2 linked regions of the Homo sapiens genome follow. The protein of the gene in region 2 purifies or fractionates together with the protein of the main gene of each other region. This does not show direct contact. Each region holds a gene or a part of one and is shown on either strand. Other genes may lie near its edges. The genes, in order: KYNU and SMS.

The links.
Region 1: the proteins of SMS (region 2) and KYNU fractionate together in Homo sapiens (co-fractionation; 2 studies listed by BioGRID). This does not show direct contact.

What each region holds. Positions count from the first base shown.
Region 1 is NC_000002.12:143,032,776-143,044,375, reverse strand, and holds part of KYNU (kynureninase), read right to left. Parts: intron 11,141-11,600; coding exon 11,055-11,140; intron 7,241-11,054; coding exon of another isoform or gene 7,205-7,240; exon of another isoform or gene 7,111-7,204; intron 3,949-7,110; coding exon 3,718-3,948; intron 2,330-3,717; coding exon 2,204-2,329; 3' UTR 1-2,203. UniProt on the Homo sapiens protein: Catalyzes the cleavage of L-kynurenine (L-Kyn) and L-3-hydroxykynurenine (L-3OHKyn) into anthranilic acid (AA) and 3-hydroxyanthranilic acid (3-OHAA), respectively. Has a preference for the L-3-hydroxy form. Also has cysteine-conjugate-beta-lyase activity.
Region 2 is NC_000023.11:21,978,709-21,985,708, forward strand, and holds part of SMS (spermine synthase), read left to right. Parts: intron 1-168; coding exon 169-258; intron 259-5,595; coding exon 5,596-5,710; intron 5,711-6,435; coding exon 6,436-6,515; intron 6,516-7,000. UniProt on the Homo sapiens protein: Catalyzes the production of spermine from spermidine and decarboxylated S-adenosylmethionine (dcSAM).

The sequences.
Region 1 (11,600 bases), on a different chromosome or scaffold from region 2:
ACCATTTAACCCAGCAATCCCATTACTGGGTATACCCTAAGGATTATAAATCATTCTACTATAAAGACACATGCACACATATGTTCATTGCAGCACTATTCACAATAGCGAAGACTTGGAACCAACTCAAATGGCCATCAATGATAGACTGGATAAAGAAAATGTGGCACATATATACCATGGAATACTATGCAGCCATAAAAAAGAATGAGTTCATGTCCTTTGCAGGGACATGGATGAAGCTGGAAACCATCATTCTCAGCAAACTAACAGAGGAACAGAAAATCAAACACTGCATGTTCTTACCCATAAGTGAGAGTTGAACAATGAGAACATATGAACACAGGGAGGGGAACATCACACACCAGGTCCTTTTGGGTAGTTGGGGATAAGAGGAGGGTGAGCATTAGGAGAAATACCTGATGTAGATGACGGGTTGATGGGTGCAGCAATCCACCACGGCACATGTATACCTATGTAACAAACCTGCATGTTCTGCACGTGTATCCAAGAACTTAAAGTATAAATATATATATATTTATACTTTATATATATTATACTTTATATATATTTATATAAATATATTAAAATATAAATATATAAATATATAAATATAAATATATATAAAGTATATATATTTATATATATTTTTATATATGTATATGAATCCACTTATGCATGAGTTTTAAGGTTTTGAGAACTCTTCCATCTATGAGGATTAGTTACAGTAGGAAGATTTGCTAAAGCAGTATGTAGCCACTCAATTAAGGGAGATAACATGAGTAATGTAGCACAATACATGGTACATGGTAAGTACATGATAAATATCAGTAGTTACTGGTATTGGTAGGTGTTGATGTTGGAGTTCCACATATTATTGTTTACGTCTACCATCCGAAGTGTTTATCTAAGTTTGTTTATTTCATTCAAACTTGTTTAATTGGAGGCAATAATTATGTCACTCTTTTTGTTGACTATGTATACAAATCTACACTATTTTGTCAACTTATAAATAATGATTGTGGCATCAACAATTGAAAACTAGGTAAGTCCAACAGGGCTAAGTGTAACTTTAGGTTTTTCACAGTGGGTAAGAAAGGTCCATAGATTTGAGATAAAGATGTCAAGAGATGGAGCACATATTTCTTATATCTCTAATCCCCAAAAAGATCTTGGGGTTATTTATTTACTATGGAAACATAGTAATATAATATCTAAGCTCTTATATTAGGGGAAGTTCTCATTTAAAAAGTAAGAGATTATGATAACATTAAAGAAAGAAACATTCTTAAAAAGTGTGAATTAGGGCCCATGAGTGGGTAAGGAAATCAATATAATGAGTTTCCAACATTTCTTATGAGATAAAATAGAATAGTACCTATTAGAGCACAGGCAAATAATTGTAAAAACTTTTATTTTTGCTATTTAGACTATTTTATCAAATAGAAGATGGTAACTGTTTATTTGAGATGCATGCTAATTTCATAGATGGTAACGAGAAAGATGGCCAATGGTGACTGTAAGAAACTATTGATCGAAAATTGAAAGATGGGTCCTCTTTCAAAGATGTTAAAATATGATAAAATATCTTAGAATCAATAATATTTCTCATATATTCACATAAATACTGGTTTCTGATATTACAGATCAGCAGGAGCAATGTGGATTGTACCCAAAAAAATTTGAAAGCCACTATCATATATATATGATATATATATATATATATACACACACACACACACACATATATATATATATATATATATATATATATATATATATATATATATATCAGACTACAATGCTTCAAAGAAACTCCTTGGTAAATTGAAGCTAAAGTAATATTTCTAAATTTGACACAATAATTGCACATACATTATGAAGTTGTCAGTTAAATCAGAAATTAAACCAACATAAAACATTTCAATGACCATGAAATGTGACAGCTTATAGAGACTGTATAGATAATACTTGAACCAACACAGTTTTGGTCCCCCAAACACAAAGCACCTAGGCAGCCCTGTGGACTCCTTAGTGCCACAGACTCTGAAAAATTATATCAGATTTTCTGTAAGGTATATTATTTATTGTTAGTTACATGTGGTCAATGGTGACATACTTTCAATAATTAAAAATCGAATAATACTGAAATAACCACAGCAGCTTTCAGTATAATTTGCTTAAGTTGTTCTAGAAAACACTGCTAATTTTTTGTTTCTGCAGAGTCAAGTATAGAAGTGAGCAGATTGGTAAATTTATAAACATCATGGAAAGAATTATAGAGAGGAACTGGAGCCACTCGAATGCCATTTGGATTCCGCTTGTCACACTGTGGGGAAAAAATAAAGCCACAATAATGTTAGCATTATTCACACGTTGAAAATCTACATTCCAGATAAACTTATGTAAAGCACTTTCATAATGATTTCCCTAAAAATTAATATATATGCAAAATTTTTTTACTTTAAAACATGGTGTTTTTCTGTTTTATGAAACTTTTCTCTTGATAATAATTTAAGAAATAAGAATGGATTGGTGCATAAATAGCCAAGATAGATTCCTGAAATCTATTCAGCAACTATCTTCCTTAAGCATTTAATAGACCATAAATACATTTTGTTTTTTTTTTCCCGTGGGGACCCCATGGAAGGACTGGAATTCTTGGGTGAATTTAAGTGAATGAAAACCTCATTAGGGTCTGGAGAGTTTTAGTAAATTATCCTTGAACTTAATTCTCTAATCTTTGATCTCACAAATAAGAAGTGGGCTACATTGTAGGTCCTGAAGTAGCACCAGATAATTTGACATGCCTAGAGATCACTATGGTTAACTTTAGAAAACACCTGCTATAGGCTAGACAATATAGTATATAGTTTATGTGTGCTGTCCCATTTCAATCCAATCACAACTCTTGGAGGTAATTTATTTTATACCCCAAATACGGATGAAAATTTCAAGCCAATAGATCCTAATGAACTTTCCAAAGAGGACAGAGTTTGACGACAGCAGAGTTTGATTTAGAAACTTGAATTTCTGACTTGTGTCTCCAGCATCTGGGAGTAACCTCTCCTACAGGTAAACATGAGCCAAGCAATGCCTTAATTACATAATCATTGGAAGTAGATACATTATCTTTTTTCCCTGAAATTACTCAGTTCACATTTATTAGTTCTCTTCAAGAGACCAAGAAGGTCATATAGGCTGAAGGGTTAAAAAAAAATTATTCCTTGCAATGTTACCACTCCTGAGAAGTGTATATATATCTTTTTTGACAGAAGTGACAAGGTTGAAAATAACTTAATTTGATCAAGCGACTAAATAAGACTTTCTTTTTTAACCCTTCAATAAATTGGTATGATCTTTAATTCCATTCATCCAATAAATGAATTGTAGTACAGACTAGAGAAAACAATGTCCTGACTGAGTATGATGAAATAATAACTTTTTTCTGCCCAAACTGTTATGAAAAGAATGAGTAAGTTACAAAAAACTATTCCTATAAGCCAAGTTTGTGGTATCTTCTCTTTTATCAGAAACGACAGATCTCTATGCCTTTCAGTTAGCACAGTGCTGAGGGCTTAGTTGGCACTTAATTTATCCTTAATTGACTGACTGATGTGAAATAACATGCAACAATGAATAAACCAAAGAGTCCAAATTTTATCCCTAACATGCGGCCCATAGACAAAATCTGGTAGCAAAGCAAGACATACTTACAACCACTCCTCTTTTTTCTAGTTCTTGGAAAACATCTTTGTTTGGAACAGAAAATGTTATTGTTAGCTGGCACCCCCGCTCCTCTACATGAGACGGAGTAATTATGTTCACAACTGGTTTCTTGGTTGCTGCTTTATCTTTGCCATAGTTATGCTTGATCAGGTATTCCAGATAGCCAGTTAGCAAAACAGATTTTTTCCGCAATGCCTTCATTGTCGCTTGCTTAAAGATCTGTGGAATGAGAAACAATCAGATTAAAGTGTCTTATTGATTTACAAAGAAGCAAAAATTAAGAGTAAATCATGCATAAAAAGGAAATGCCCATATTTGATCTTTCCAATAAATATCTCCCTTTACATAATCTTTTTGTGTAAAATCATGCCCTCCTTTAAATGCTTTGCTATTAAATACTGAAGGTAAAATTTCCATGACAGAAAAATTGTACAAATGTCACTTAAATAAAACTTGCAAAGGAAGAAAATGTAAGTTAATATCATGTACCTGTGGCAGGCCAGGTTTCACTAATGCAGGCCTCCATCACAACTGTTTCAGTACTGACCGAGTGGTTACATTAAATATTAAAAACTAAAAAAGTCAGTGCCCTTATACAAAGGCTGGGATGAACAAAAGCCTATCAAGAGTTTTGCCTAGGCTTTCCCTGGGCCTTAAAGCATGACAGAATAATGAAGGAATTCTTAACAGGACCCATTCAGGATTAAACAAGTTTTACTGTGGTTGTGAAGAAACTCTCCAGGCCTCTACAAACAAGTTTATTGAAGGTCTAAAGGAACTCCTCAAACTTCAGTGATTTAGCAGAAGACAAGATAAGGGTAATCACTCCAGCACCTGGACCCATTTAGATTAAGTAAATTTACTGAGGCTCCAGAGGAAGGTCTTCAGGACTCAGACCTTAGTTGTAGATTAAAAGAAGTTAATCACTTATGTCTTCAGATGAATGCACACTTACACCTGTAAAACTTTGTAATTTTGAGTTGGTCTGGTGATAATTTCCAGGCCTTCTCCCTGTAACCAGTTACAGAAATAAAAACTCTCTTCCTCCCCTGTTCATCTGCATCTTGTTATTGGGCCATGAGAAATAGCAGCCCAACCCTCAATTTGGTCCGGGAACATACCTTCAAAATTATTTTAAATTAAGTTAGTATAATCAAGTAAAACATACCTTAATAAATGGATTTAAATATCATACAATGTAAGCTTTTCCCCAAAACCACTTTTTGAAATCATAATCAAGAAGACTTTTCCAACTTTGATGTAAAGTTTGTTTATCCTCAAAAAAGTGCAATATGATCTAAACATGTGCAAATGTGTAAAGCAGTGTTACTGGTGATATTTATAACTGCTTTACTGACTCCCAAATCTCTTCCAGTTTAACAATAAGAAAACAAGCAGTTAAATAATAATGCTAAGTTTCCTCAGAGAGGAAAGCAAATAATATTAGATAATGCATTTATTTTTACTGAAGCATTTGGGCTTGGTTTCTCTCATTTCCCCCCTTCTAAACTCTAGCACTGGTGTGAAAATACTGCCATTTGTGGGCTGAGATGTCTTATATTAAGATGAGTGACAAGGGCACACAATAACTGGTGTTGGAATATTAGGGGTCAGAACAGATGTGCTTTTCTGGCTTATCTCTTAAGGTCAAGTAGAGTGTAAAAATATATCCTATGTATAAGAACTAAATGAACTGCAAACAGAGCGTGATGCACTGGCCTGCCACTTAATGTTCCTTTTCTGTGTCATGAGCAAAGATATCAAGAGCAAAGATAGGGTCATTTGGTGATATTGAGACTTTATCAAGTCTATGAAAACAGTTATTCCTGTATGTACACGTGGCATGTGTAGGCAGGCACTCTAATAAAACTCAAACCATTCAGCCATAGATTTCCTGGAACTATACTGTATAGAGGCTATGGATTGGCTGAAGGAGAGGCTGGGAACTGTACTGAAGGTAAATGATATCTAAGCAAGAGAGGAAAAACAGGACAGAATGGTGCCTGTCTCTCTCTTCAACCACAACTCCCAGACAATGTCTGAAGTCTACAGAGACAGCTCAAGTAGAGGCTGATATCTTGGCTTCATAAGCTCCCGAGAGAGATCTGCAGTACAAATAATAGTGCTCCAAGATTCAGATGACCCAGGTTACACAGAACTTGGTAGGAGGCATCTCCTTCATTTTCTTGGGCAAAGCAAATGTAGGTAGACTTGGCATAATGAAGACTCAAGGGAACACTGCCAAGTTTTGGGTCAAGGGACAAGAATCAAAATTCTCCCAGAGGAGCAGGGACAGGCAAGGCACGGGCCACAGCTGGTTTGGCTGTGAAGTTTGGAATAAAAAGACTATGTGAGGAATCTTTCCAAGATTCTCTCTGGAGCTTAATAATATTCTAAGAAATTCTAAATAATAAATAATTCTAGGAAATTTTGTGGTTATGCTATGGGTGCCCTAATATGTACATGGGGGCAATCGATATGTGAAGTATCACATTTAATGATAGTTCATTTGTGTGCATAGGTTAGTAAAACTTGGAGGAATATTACTTGCATTTAGTTTTTAAAGGGGCGTAGGGAATGTTGCTCTTGAAGCTTTCTCTTGATAACTAGAAACCAATTTTTTTGGTATGACAAATAGCTTCCATCTTAATATACTGTGGAATGTTAACACTCTTTAAATCATAAAATAACTTTTAAATATAAAACTTACTTTCTCCATTACAACCACAATAAGGGCAACTGCATTCTGAGGCACTTTTAAATTCATCTCACAGAGGGTAAAAGTCTATTCTGAGCTTCACATAAAAATATTGAGAGAGAATAATAGGGAAGTAACATAAATATTCTATTTTCTTTTTTGCTTCTCATAAATGTTATGCTTTCAATATTGAGAAAATAATTTTTTTAAATTAGAAAAAATGAAAACTGTGGTTTGAAAAATATTCAGCTTAGAAGATAATACTTTGCAGAGTTTCAACTACTTGTATTTTTTTTCTTACTGACAAAATGAACACAAAGCTTGAAAAGCTAGATAAGTTTAAACAGGAAAAATAAGTTTGGTGTGATGTTTTCAATTGTCATATTTTTCTCTTAAATTCTTAAAACTGTCTCTCTAGGAAATTTGAAAGGAAACGTATAGTACATTTCTTTGTTGAGTCTTCTGACTCGCCATGTATTTTAATTGAATGCTCTAACTTTGTATTTTGAAGCCATTTATTTCATTATGAATTCAGAATACTGAAAGGGACTAAATATTGTCTACCTATCGCTACACATAAATATGAACCCTCAAAATATAATATACGTATTGTTTAAATTTAAGTATTTTGGAAAGTGAGGAGACTTCCAAAATAATCTTGTCCAAACATCTTACTTTAAAAAATAAGGCAAATACATCCAAAGGGAGTTGTTGCTTGTGTAAGGTCACACTTCGTGTCCATTGAGGGAGAGAGTACTTGCCACCAGGTTCCTGGCCTCAGGCTTCATCCCTTGATCCACAATATTTTAAGAACTATTGTATAAATGATTCAGATAAAAAAATATAAACAAAAGGACAGTTTGAAACTGATTACAATGTGCTATTTTTTATATCAATCAACCATATACACATGTATTTATTAAAAAAAGCCATATTAATATCTTTTTAAAAAGTCATTGCATTAAAAATCTAAGGTCTTATTTATATGTGATTGATTCTTAAGTATAGAATCTCTCCTCCAGTTCGTATTTGACTGTGTTGAATATTTCTTAAAAGTAGAGACAACAAAGAGGCAGTTTGATTCATGCATTTACTTCTTTCGTTTATTGAAACTTCAACCACCTATCTCCTAAAATGGAATAAACTGGTTTAAAAAGATAAGGTGGCTGAGTGCAGTGGTTCACGTCTGTCATCCCAACTGCTTAGGAGTATAAAAAGTAAAGTAGAGGTTCCTCTTCAAAGACTTTCCTTCCCGTCTAATTAGGAATAAATAGTAACTTCTCTTAGAAGCAAAATTTATTCAAAGACCTGTGCTAACATTCTTAAATATCTGCTAGCTGTAATAAATAAATCAATATACTTTATGTTTTTAGCTCCCACAATTTAGCCTAAATATTTGCCCTGGCATGCTTATACTGGTCCAAGCAGCATTAGGTCACAGCCTGTTCCTCTTCCTTATTTAAAAGTGTTTTTACCTTTCTTAGCATTCCACAAGTTACTTCCTCCTTCCTTTGTTACCCTCTACCTTTACGTCTTTTAAAAAGTTCTAAGTTACTAGCCAATCGGGACAAATACAGAATGGGAGGTCCCATTCCAGCCATTGGAACTGGACACAGCAGTAGGGTGGACACGTCAGGTTATAAATGACCCTGTCTCCTTTGTTCGGTGTACTCTCATGGCAAAACTGCTGGCGAGTGTATCCTCTCTGCAGGAAGTAAAAATGGCCTTACTAAATAAATTAAATTTGCGTTCAAGTGCTATTTCTTTATAGCACTGAAAAACAAACATTTCAAACAGGAGACTGAGGCAGGAGAATCGCTTGAGGCCAGGAGTTCCAGATTAACGTGGACAACATAGCCAGACCTCATCTCTAAAAAAATTTAAAAATAAGCTGAGCACAGTGGCATGCCCTGTAGTCTTAGCTACTCAGGAGGACCACTTGCAGCCAGTAGTTCAAGATCAGCCTGGGCAACATGGCAAAATCCTGTCTCTATAAAAAAATACAAAAATTAGTCGGGCATGGTGGTGCACTCTTGTAGTCCCAGCTGCTGTGGAGGCTGAGGTGGGAAGATCAACTGAGTCCAGGAGGCAGAGGTTGCAGTGAGCTGAGATCCCATCACTGCACTCTAGGAGTGACAGAAGGGGACCCTGTCTCAAAAATAAAGAAATAAAATAAATAAATAATAATAATCAGCCAAGTGTGGTGGTGCAGTCCTGCAGTCCCAGTTACCTGGAAGGTGGGGGCAGGAGGATCACTTGAACCCCAGGAGTTTGAGGCCATGCTAAGCCATGATCGTACTATTGCATTCCAGTCTGAACAACAGAGCAAGACCTCATCTCTAAATATAAATAAATAAAACTTAAAGGAAGGTAAGTATTAATAGAAGCATAGTTAATTCACTGATGTTTACTCACATGAGAAACCCATAAATGTCTAGAAAATAAGACATTTTAACAGAGAAAGGGAAGCAATTCAATGCATTAGTTTGTAATTCAAAAATTTTGCAATTTACAGTAGGAAAGAATTTTGAAAAAACACTTTTACCAACATAAGGCTTGATTAACTAAAGATAATTTTGGTTAGAACATAGTCTCAGCAGTGAAATGAGCAGAAAGAGGCTCAAGGGAAATATGTAAGTGATTAGAAGATCCAGAGAAATGCATATCATTCTTCTTGTGGCTTTTAGGGTTTTAAGTTTAGATATTGACTGGGTAACATAGTAAGACTTTATCTGTACAAAAAACTACAAAAATTAGCCTGGTGTAGCGGTGCACACCTGTAGTCCCAGCTACTCAGGAGGCTGAGGTTTAAGTTTAGATATTAAAAAGAAAAAATAAATCAGTTCTCAGATTATAACTGAAAATAAAAACTTTGTCTAGGTGACTCTAATACAGTGTGGTAGGAAAACAGTGGCTGGAAGAATAGGAATGTGCTTCCTTTCCCACAAGAGAAGGGTGAATACTACTAGAAAAGCCAGTCCACTGCAGAAAGTATGCCAAAGTGAAGGCGTCTAAAAGGAAATTTCCAGGTACGTCTGAGAAGTTATTTGCAAAGATATGGGCACCAGAGGAAATTACTTTAGGTACAAGCTCTTCCTAAGGTATGTCCTGGTGCTTCTGATATTGTCACACATCTCGCTGATACAAACTTGCAAGGAATGCAGAAACTTTATTTTGTTTTAAAATGTTTAAACAAAATATTTATCTGAATGGATACTATAAAAACAACTCAAATATCATTATCTGATTTACTAAGCAGATTTTTACTCAAAAAACTGTCAAAAATATATATCACTGGCTGAAAAATCTCGTTACTGTGTCTATTTTCCAAGTTAAAGAAAAATTCTGCCATGAAGTGAAAACAACACAAGCTCCATCTAGTGGTTAAACTGAGTAGGTGCGCTTTAAATTGAGACAGAATGAAATGAGGTGATGATCACTATCCAGTGGTGAAATTTAATAAAAACAGAGGAACTTGATGCTGCCATCCAGTGGCCAGAATGAGAAACTGCTGTAAGTGTTCACAGAATTATGCAATTTTAGATTAGAAGGAATTTTGAATCTTCATCCTGTCACTCATTTGATGCTGAAATCCTCTATAAGTTTTTGCCAAAATATCATAAACTACATGATTTTAGAAGGAGACATGAAAAAATTTCAAATCCTTGTTTGAATAGTTCTATGTAAAACTTCTATTAGAAATATATATGCACATTTACTTAAAATATATTTTACTTAAATATAGGTATACAAAATATACAATTACTTTATATATTTACATTATTTATGTAAATATTTATACATTTACATTATATATGAATTTTATACTATATAACCTATATATTTTTACTTGGCCACATTTAGTCTAACACTAAATAATAGTATCTAAGGAATCACAATTTCATTTTCTTGTTATGTATATTTATCATTTCAGGGTGAGACTAAATTTACCTAAATAAAAATATAAATTAATTTAAAGGAAAATATTGAGTCAGTGATAGTGGAGACTATAAATGGACATAATGGCATAGAAGTCCCAATTTAAAAAAATCATAAAACCACCCTACCTTATGAGACAACCTTATTTAATCTTTGGTTTACTCTGATTATTCTTTTTTCCTTCAAGTAAGTCTTTCCTAGCTTTGTCACATGGTACTTGGTCAGTTCATTCACCTACAATGAACTAGAAAAAGTACAGTCCCTAGTAATCACATCAGGCACACAATATTTTCTCAATAAATTTATGTTGAATGAGCGAATTTATGAAGAACTAAATATTGCATGCTTATTTGGTATAAAGAGAGGCCAAGAGAAGGTTAAATAACTTATTCATGTTTAAACAGATTCTAAGTGGAGTAAAAAACGTATCTCCCCAAAAGAGTTCCATTTAATATTTACTATGTGCCAACAATGTGCCAAGCATTGTGCTGGGGGCTGGTGACATGAATGAAGGGAGACCCTCACCACATCATCACTGTCCTAAAGGGGAATGCTGCCTTCTGTCCCTTGTTCATGCACAGTGCACATGTATCATCTTGCTGTGTAGCAGAGAAAGTACTATGAATTGTCACAAACAGATCAAGAAAAAACGCAAAGATGTGGGAAGGTTGAAACACACATCACTTACCTCTAAACTAGCATGCAAGGAACAGACCAACAAAATGGGAGGATTTGAAATTCGGAATCCACAGACCCCAGGGATTAACTGCAGTTCTGAGAAATTAATATCATGTCATTATCATAGAAGGTAACTTTAAAAGTGTCCATAAAGATACTAGAGTACTGGAGAGTAAAAGAGCAAGACTTAAACTTTTCTTCCTAAGTAGGATTTCTGAGATATTTAAGATAAGCTCCATGGAACTAAAATATCGACGTTATTTCCCGTTTACCAGCAGTTCCCACCTCCCTTGTCCCCAACTTCTTAGCAGAACACCAGAAATCTTAGACCCAAGGTAAAAATGACCTCTTCTGGAAGTTTTTCTGGATCTCATTCTCTGCCTTCCTATTCCCAAGCCAGGATTCCTTATTCTGCTCAACATTTGCTATTCTATTATGAAACCATGTCAATGAGAGAGAGCATCAGCTTTTAGTGGCATGTAATTGTAATGTCTCCCAAAGGCAGAAATATGAATGAAATGACCTATGAAGCTGACTTTTAGCTCTAGGATTGTTA
Region 2 (7,000 bases):
GAGTGTCCTTAGTGTGAAAATAAAGTCACTGCCTCATTCATCATTTTGTTAAATTTGTGATACCCAAGTTAGTATTATAAAACCTTTGTTTGTCTTAATCCTTTCTTTAAAGTATTACTATTTCAGAATTCTTTGATATACCCAAATTCTCCTTAACCTGTTGCGGACATTGACCAAATGGTGATTGATGGGTGTAAGAAATACATGCGAAAAACGTGTGGCGATGTCTTAGACAATCTTAAAGGAGACTGCTATCAGGTAATTGTTTTCTGGATAATGTAGTTTTAAGTGAACTAATAATATAAGTTATTGATCAGAATTGTGCCTTATTAAAACAGCTTTTAGTATAGTTGGTTGAGAAGATAAATACATCATCTGTCTCTTCATATGAGTTATATGTATATTTGTATTTAGGGTGCACACGTACCAATGATGGGAAAGCACCAACTCCAGATTCTCTGAATTAAATAAAATTAATTCTTTTTTTTTTTATTATACTTTCAGTTCTACGGTACATGTGCAGAATGTACAGGTTTGTTACATAGGTATACACGTGCCATGGTGGTTTGCTGCACCTATGAACCCATCATCTAGGTTTTAAGCCCTGCATGCGTTAGGTATTTCTCCTAATGCTATCCTTCCCCTAGCCCCCTACCCCCGATCGGCCCCGGTGTGTGATGTTCCCCTCCCTGTGTCCATGTGTTCTCATTGTTCAGCTTACACTTAGGAGTGAGAACATGCGGTGTTTGGTTTTCTGTTCTTGTGTTAGTTTGCTGAGAATGATGGTTTCCAGCTTCATCCATGTCCTTGCAGAGGACATGAACTCATTCTTTTTTATGGCTGCATAGTATTCCATGGCATATATGTGCCACATTTTCTTTATCCAGCCTATCCTTAATGGGCATTTGGGTTGGTTCCAAGTCTTTGCTATTGTGAATAGTGCCGCAATAAATATACGTGTGCATGTGTCTTTATAGTAGAATGACTTATAATCCTTTGTATGTATACCCAGTAATGTGATCGCTGGGTCAAATGGTATTTCTAGTCCTAGATCCTTGAGGAATCGCTACGCTGTCTTCTACAATGGTTGAACTAATTTACACTCCCACCAACAGTATAAAAGTGTTCCTATTTCTCCTCATCCTCTCCAGCATCTGTTGCTTCCTGACTTTTTAATGATGGCCATTCTAACTCCAGCTTGGGCTGCAGAGCGAGAATGTCTCAAAAAAAAAAAAAAATCTTAATAAAAAAAAAAACCTTAATAATAATAATAAAAAAGAAACCTTAGTAGTAAAAATCAAGTAGTACACAAAGCTAAAGATTGCTTTTACATATGTACAAAATTTCCAAGTAAAATAATAAGCTAAATCTGGCAAATTAAGTCTATATTATGCTCAAGTAGGATTTAGTTAGAAGTGTAAAGATTTCAATTTTAAGAAATCTGTCAACTTAATTCGTTAGGTGAATAATTTAAAGGAGGAAAATAACAGATGACAAAGAATTTGAGAATATTTAGCAGTCATTTTAAATAAAAACTAATGCAGTATAGCCATGTAAAATTAGCCAGGTGTGGCGGCGTGTGCCTGTAATTCCAGCTACATGGAAGGCTGAGGCAGGAGAATCGCTTGAACCCGGAAGGTGGAGGTTGCAGTGAGCTGAGATTGCACCACTGCACTCCAGCCTGGGCAACAGAGGGAGACTGTCTCCAAAAAAAAAAAAAAATATATATATATATATATATATATTTCCATCTAACAAATCTGTACATGTACTTCCTGAATCTAAAATAAAAGTTAAATTATAAATTACTTGAATAAAATAAAATTGCAATAGAGATGAAACTACCTGAACGTTAATAGAAACTTAGGTTGTGGTAAATAGAAAAATAGAAAATATAATAGATAGCAAAAGCCATTTCCACTGAAAATAGGAAGAAGATGAGGATGCCTATTATCTTTTTCAACATTATTTTTTGAGGTAGCTGAGATAGTAAAGTAGATGAAAACAGTATAAATCTAATTATTTGTAGATGATGTGAATACTAGAAAATCCAGGAAACTTACGTAGGAAATTATTTGAATTAATGAGAATTTGATAAAGTGATTGGATAAAGCCAGCCTAGATTTTTTCTCTATACTAAATGCTAACTCATTTAAATAGGATTTCCTTCCCACCCATTTCCTTTCAAAGTAATCAAGTGTTAAATTCCTAGGAATATATTTAACAAGAATGGTATTGTGAGACTGGTATGAATTATGTTAAGATGTTATTGAAAGACATCAAAGTCTGAATATGTGGAGAGGCATGCTGTATTTCTTGTATTGAAAGAACAGGCCGGGCTTGGTGGCTCACCTGTAATCCCAGCACTTTGGGAGGCCGAGGTGGGTGGATCACTTGAAGTCAGGAGTTGGAGAACAGCCTGGTCAACATGGTGAAATCCTGTCTCTACTAAAAATACAAAAATTAGCCCGACGTGGTGGTGGGTGCTTATAATCCAGCTACTCTGGAGGCTGAGGCAGGAGAATTGCTTGAACCCGGGAGGTGGAGGTTGCAGTGAGCCAAGATTGCACCACTGCACTCCAGCCTGGGTGGCAGAGCAAGACTCCGTCTCAAAAAAAAAAAGGAACAATGTCTATTCTTCCCAATTTATTATGAGTAATCCCAAGGAGGGGGGAGGGGTTTAAAAGTAGACCAACTGATTTTGAAGTTGATTTGTAAAAATAAGTATCTAAGAATACCCAAGAAAACTTGAAAAAAGAATCATAGTGTGAAGCGAAATATGTCCTATTTGTTGTTAATGTACTATAAGGCACGATAATCAAATAGGAAGTATGAAAGGAATACACAAGGACCTAGGAATGTCAAAGGAACTTGAACAGGTCTGAGTATGTATTCCTACACACTGCTAATATGGTCTAAGATACATTTCAGTTGACTTGGGAAAAGCGTTAGTTGAGTTAGTGTGTGATGCCGGTATAAGAAGTTATCCATCTGCATGAGAACCAAGTTAGCTAACAATAGAAATAGGAATTTTGGTGACTTAGGCTCTAAATGTAAAAACTAATACATTTAAGACAATTTAGAGTACTTAACCTTGGAGTTCAGAAATCTCTTAAAGATAGGACACTCAAACTGTTAATGGTATTATAATGTTGTCATTACCAAGCCAAAAGTCAGACTAGAAGAAAGACTAGTAACAAGCATGACAGGGAATTGATCCCTTGAATAATGCAGAGTCCCTACAACTTAGAAATGAAGTTAGCTAAATTTAAAAAGGTATAGAGGATATTTACTGGTACTTCTCAGAATAAGTCAAATAACCTGTAAAAAGTACCACAAGACAGGCCGGGCGCGGTGGCTCACACCTGTAATCCCAGCACTTTGGGAGGCTGAGGTGGGCGGATCACGAGGTCAGGAGATCGAGACCATCCTGGCTAACATAGTGAAACCCCGTCTCCACTAAAAAAATACAAAAAAAAATTAGCTGGGCGTGGTGGCGGGCACCTGTAGTCTCAGCTACTCGGGAGGCTGAGGCAGGAGAATGGCGTGAACCCGGGAGGCAGAGCTTGCAGTGAGCCCAGATCGCATCACTGCACTCCAGCCTGGGCGACAGAGCAAGACTTGTCTCAAAAAAAAAAAAAAAAAAAAGTACCACAAGACGGTCAACCCTGTTGGTGGCCCAGGAAGTTCTTGTGAAAACATTAGCAACAGACTTCACAAAATTTAGTAGAGGGGCAATATCTCATGCTGGGGAGGTTGTGGGGAGACAGGTGCTCATATGCATTGCTGGTTGGCGTGTGAATTGCTATCAAAACCGGAACACACGGCTTCTAGCCGGTGTTTGAGCACACAGCCCACAGTTAAAAAGGTGTCACTACAAGGTTTTATTATAGCTGTGCTTGTAGTGACCAAGGCTTGGCAATGACAACAGAAAGAATGTTTTTAGTGGAATGGTGTATTTTTTAAAATGTGTGTTATTACCTGGAGAGATGTTGGGTGAAATGTTCAAGTTCCAAATGATGTGTGGGATTCAAATTTTACAAAAGAGAACATACATTTGTGTTTGTGTGCAAGTATTCGTAAGAATCTGTGTGAACGTATGGAAAAAATATGAGCATATCAAACAGGATTAATACATGGATTGAAAGCAACGGTGGTGTTAGTACCTCCTATATTTTTCCATAGTTGGACTTGTATGATGCATTGAGGCAAGTTATAAAACAATAGGACAGAAAAGTCCCAGTTTCTTAAAATTATAACTGTGAGGCTATAAGAAGAATGATGAGAAATAACATGGGATAGGTTATCTTAGGGAATTGTGGTGAACTTTTTTTAATTTTTTTTGAGTCAAGGTCTTGCTCTGTCACTCAGGCTGGAGCACAGTGGTGCGCGATGATCATGGCTCACTACAGCCTCAAACTCCCGGGCTCAAGCGATCCTCCCACCTCAACTTCCTGAGTAGCCGGGACTACAGGCAGATACCACTAGGCCCAGCTGATTTTTCTTTTTTTTCTAGAGACGGGCTTTCACCATGTCGCCCAGGCTGCTCTAGTACTCCTGGGCTCCATTGTTCCGCCCACCTCAACTTCCCAAAGTACTGGGATTACAGGTGTTGGGCCACTGACCCCAGCCTGGCAAACTCTTAAACTCTTGGTTTCTGACTATTATATTTAATTTTTCTTTTACTTAATGTATTTTTTTTTTGAATTAGAAAACTAAAAGATGACAGTAACTCCTGTTTAGTTCAGGATGTTGCTTAGATCCAGATGTGTCCCCAGCATAGAGCCTCAGTACTTCAAAGATACAGCCAACCTCAAACTTCTTTTCTGTGTTAACTATATATGATCTGTATGGGAATTCCAGCTGGTCTCTTTATTGACTCTGATGGTGGGAGCTGTTATATATAGCTTTATTAGCAGTAGCCCAAGCGTTAGAGAAAATTGAGAAATAACATGTTAATAGTTTGAGTAAGGTGCAAAAGTGAATCCATAAACAATGAAGTCATTCAGTGCTTAGTATAAAAGAAAAATTAGGCTGGGTACGGTGGCTCATGCCTCTAATCCCAGCACTATGAGAGTCTGAGGTGGGCAGATTGCTTGAGCCCAGGAGTTCAAGACCAGCCTGGGCAACGTAGTGAGACCCTGTCTCTAGAAAAACTTTTTAAAAATAGTTTATTAATTAAAAAAATAAAAATTAAAAGAAGATGATACAGATAGTGATAGGAGAGGCAGTATAGATTAGAGATGAAAGTATGAAGTTGGCTTTCAGATAGTAATAGGTATACTTCGTGGATCTATGGGCAAGCTGGATAACACCTCAAGTTTGTTTCTGCATTGGTAAAATGGGATGATAATAGTGCCTCTAGGATTGTTGTTTTATTGAAATGAGAAGGCATATAAAGCATATATGGTAAGCACTTAATTTTTGCTGTTAACAGACATAGATGAAAGTTTTTTGGTTCCTGTAGCAGTTGCTGTGGATAGCTGTGGATATAAGCCCATACTTGGCGCTTTTTTCCTCCTTCCTTTACTATTGTTTTTTGTTTAACTACATCCACATGTTGGCTCACTCATCTATTCCTGTTCTTTCTGGAAGGTTCTAATAGAAGACTGTATCCCGGTACTGAAGAGGTACGCCAAAGAAGGGAGAGAATTTGATTATGTGATTAATGATTTGACAGCTGTTCCAATCTCCACGTCTCCAGAAGAAGGTAGATTTTTTTAACCAAGATATTTATGATGGAAATGTTTCTCTTGGCACCATGTGAGGGTGAAAGGATCCTAGAGATTGTGTAGTTCTCTCACGTTTTTGAAAAAGGGAGTTAAATTGAGGTCCATGGTGGAAAGATGACTGGATTTGGCTTCAATTCCTGTTCTGCCACTCAATGAGTGAACTAATTCAGTCATTTGAAACAAAAATGAAGTAAAATGACTCATTACATTAATGAGACAGTAAATCATTTGACAATTTATTTAAATTATGTGATTTTCAACCTGTATTGGTACAAACTGGTCACTTATCTAAGCAACGACATAGATAATTCCCTTTCTCAAACCAGATGTTTGTTCCAAATCACAGCTAGTTCGTGTTTTTTTCTATAAACTCAAGTTCCTGCTGAGTTTGCAGGCTCTGAATTTCTCTCAGGATTTTGCTGCTTGCCCCCTTATTTAAAGCAGTTTTCTTTCACGTTTCAGCCACTGCCTTTGTGTCAAATCTATTGGTATTTTGAGAGCGAGCAGTGCTAGGTGGATGTGATTTTGGCATCCAAAATCAATTTCATTATCGTTCATGAACAAGCTCTTTGAATAGTGGGTCTTACACTCGTGGCTCTTTTTCTTTTTCCTCTTTTGGTATTGAGTATTCGAATATTTTACTTCAGATGTTGTGGATACATACAAACCCATATTTATGAAACTTGTTCTTTTAAACATTCAGATTCCACATGGGAGTTTCTCAGACTGATTCTTGACCTCTCAATGAAAGTGTTGAAACAGGATGGGAAATATTTTACACAGGTAGGCTACTTAACAGTTTTTTCCCTCAAAACGCTCTAAGACTTTCCTGTTTTGAAATCTGAATGCACATTTTTGAAATGTATATCTATTAAGGATAGAGCGGCATCATCGGATTATGTTCTTTCAAACAGTAAGCTTCTACGTTGACCTGTTGTCTGTTGGGAATTAATGAGTTATCAGCCCTGGTCTTTCGCTGTAGTATGAGCTGCTGCCACCAGATGGAGACACAGACTGATTTTCTTTTTTCCCCTCCCCTCATCAACATACACTTGATGACAAAGCTCTGGCTGTACTGTGAACTCCTGCCACCAGATGGAAGCAGATTGTGGTGTTTTTCTCATTCTCTAGGGGATTCTAAACTTAAACTTTAAAGATTACATTAATTGGGGTTAAAAATATACATATATATCTCCTATTGAAATCCTTAACAAAATTTTGAAAATGACAGCAAAGACAGCTAATTGATAATCCAGTCTCTTGGTACA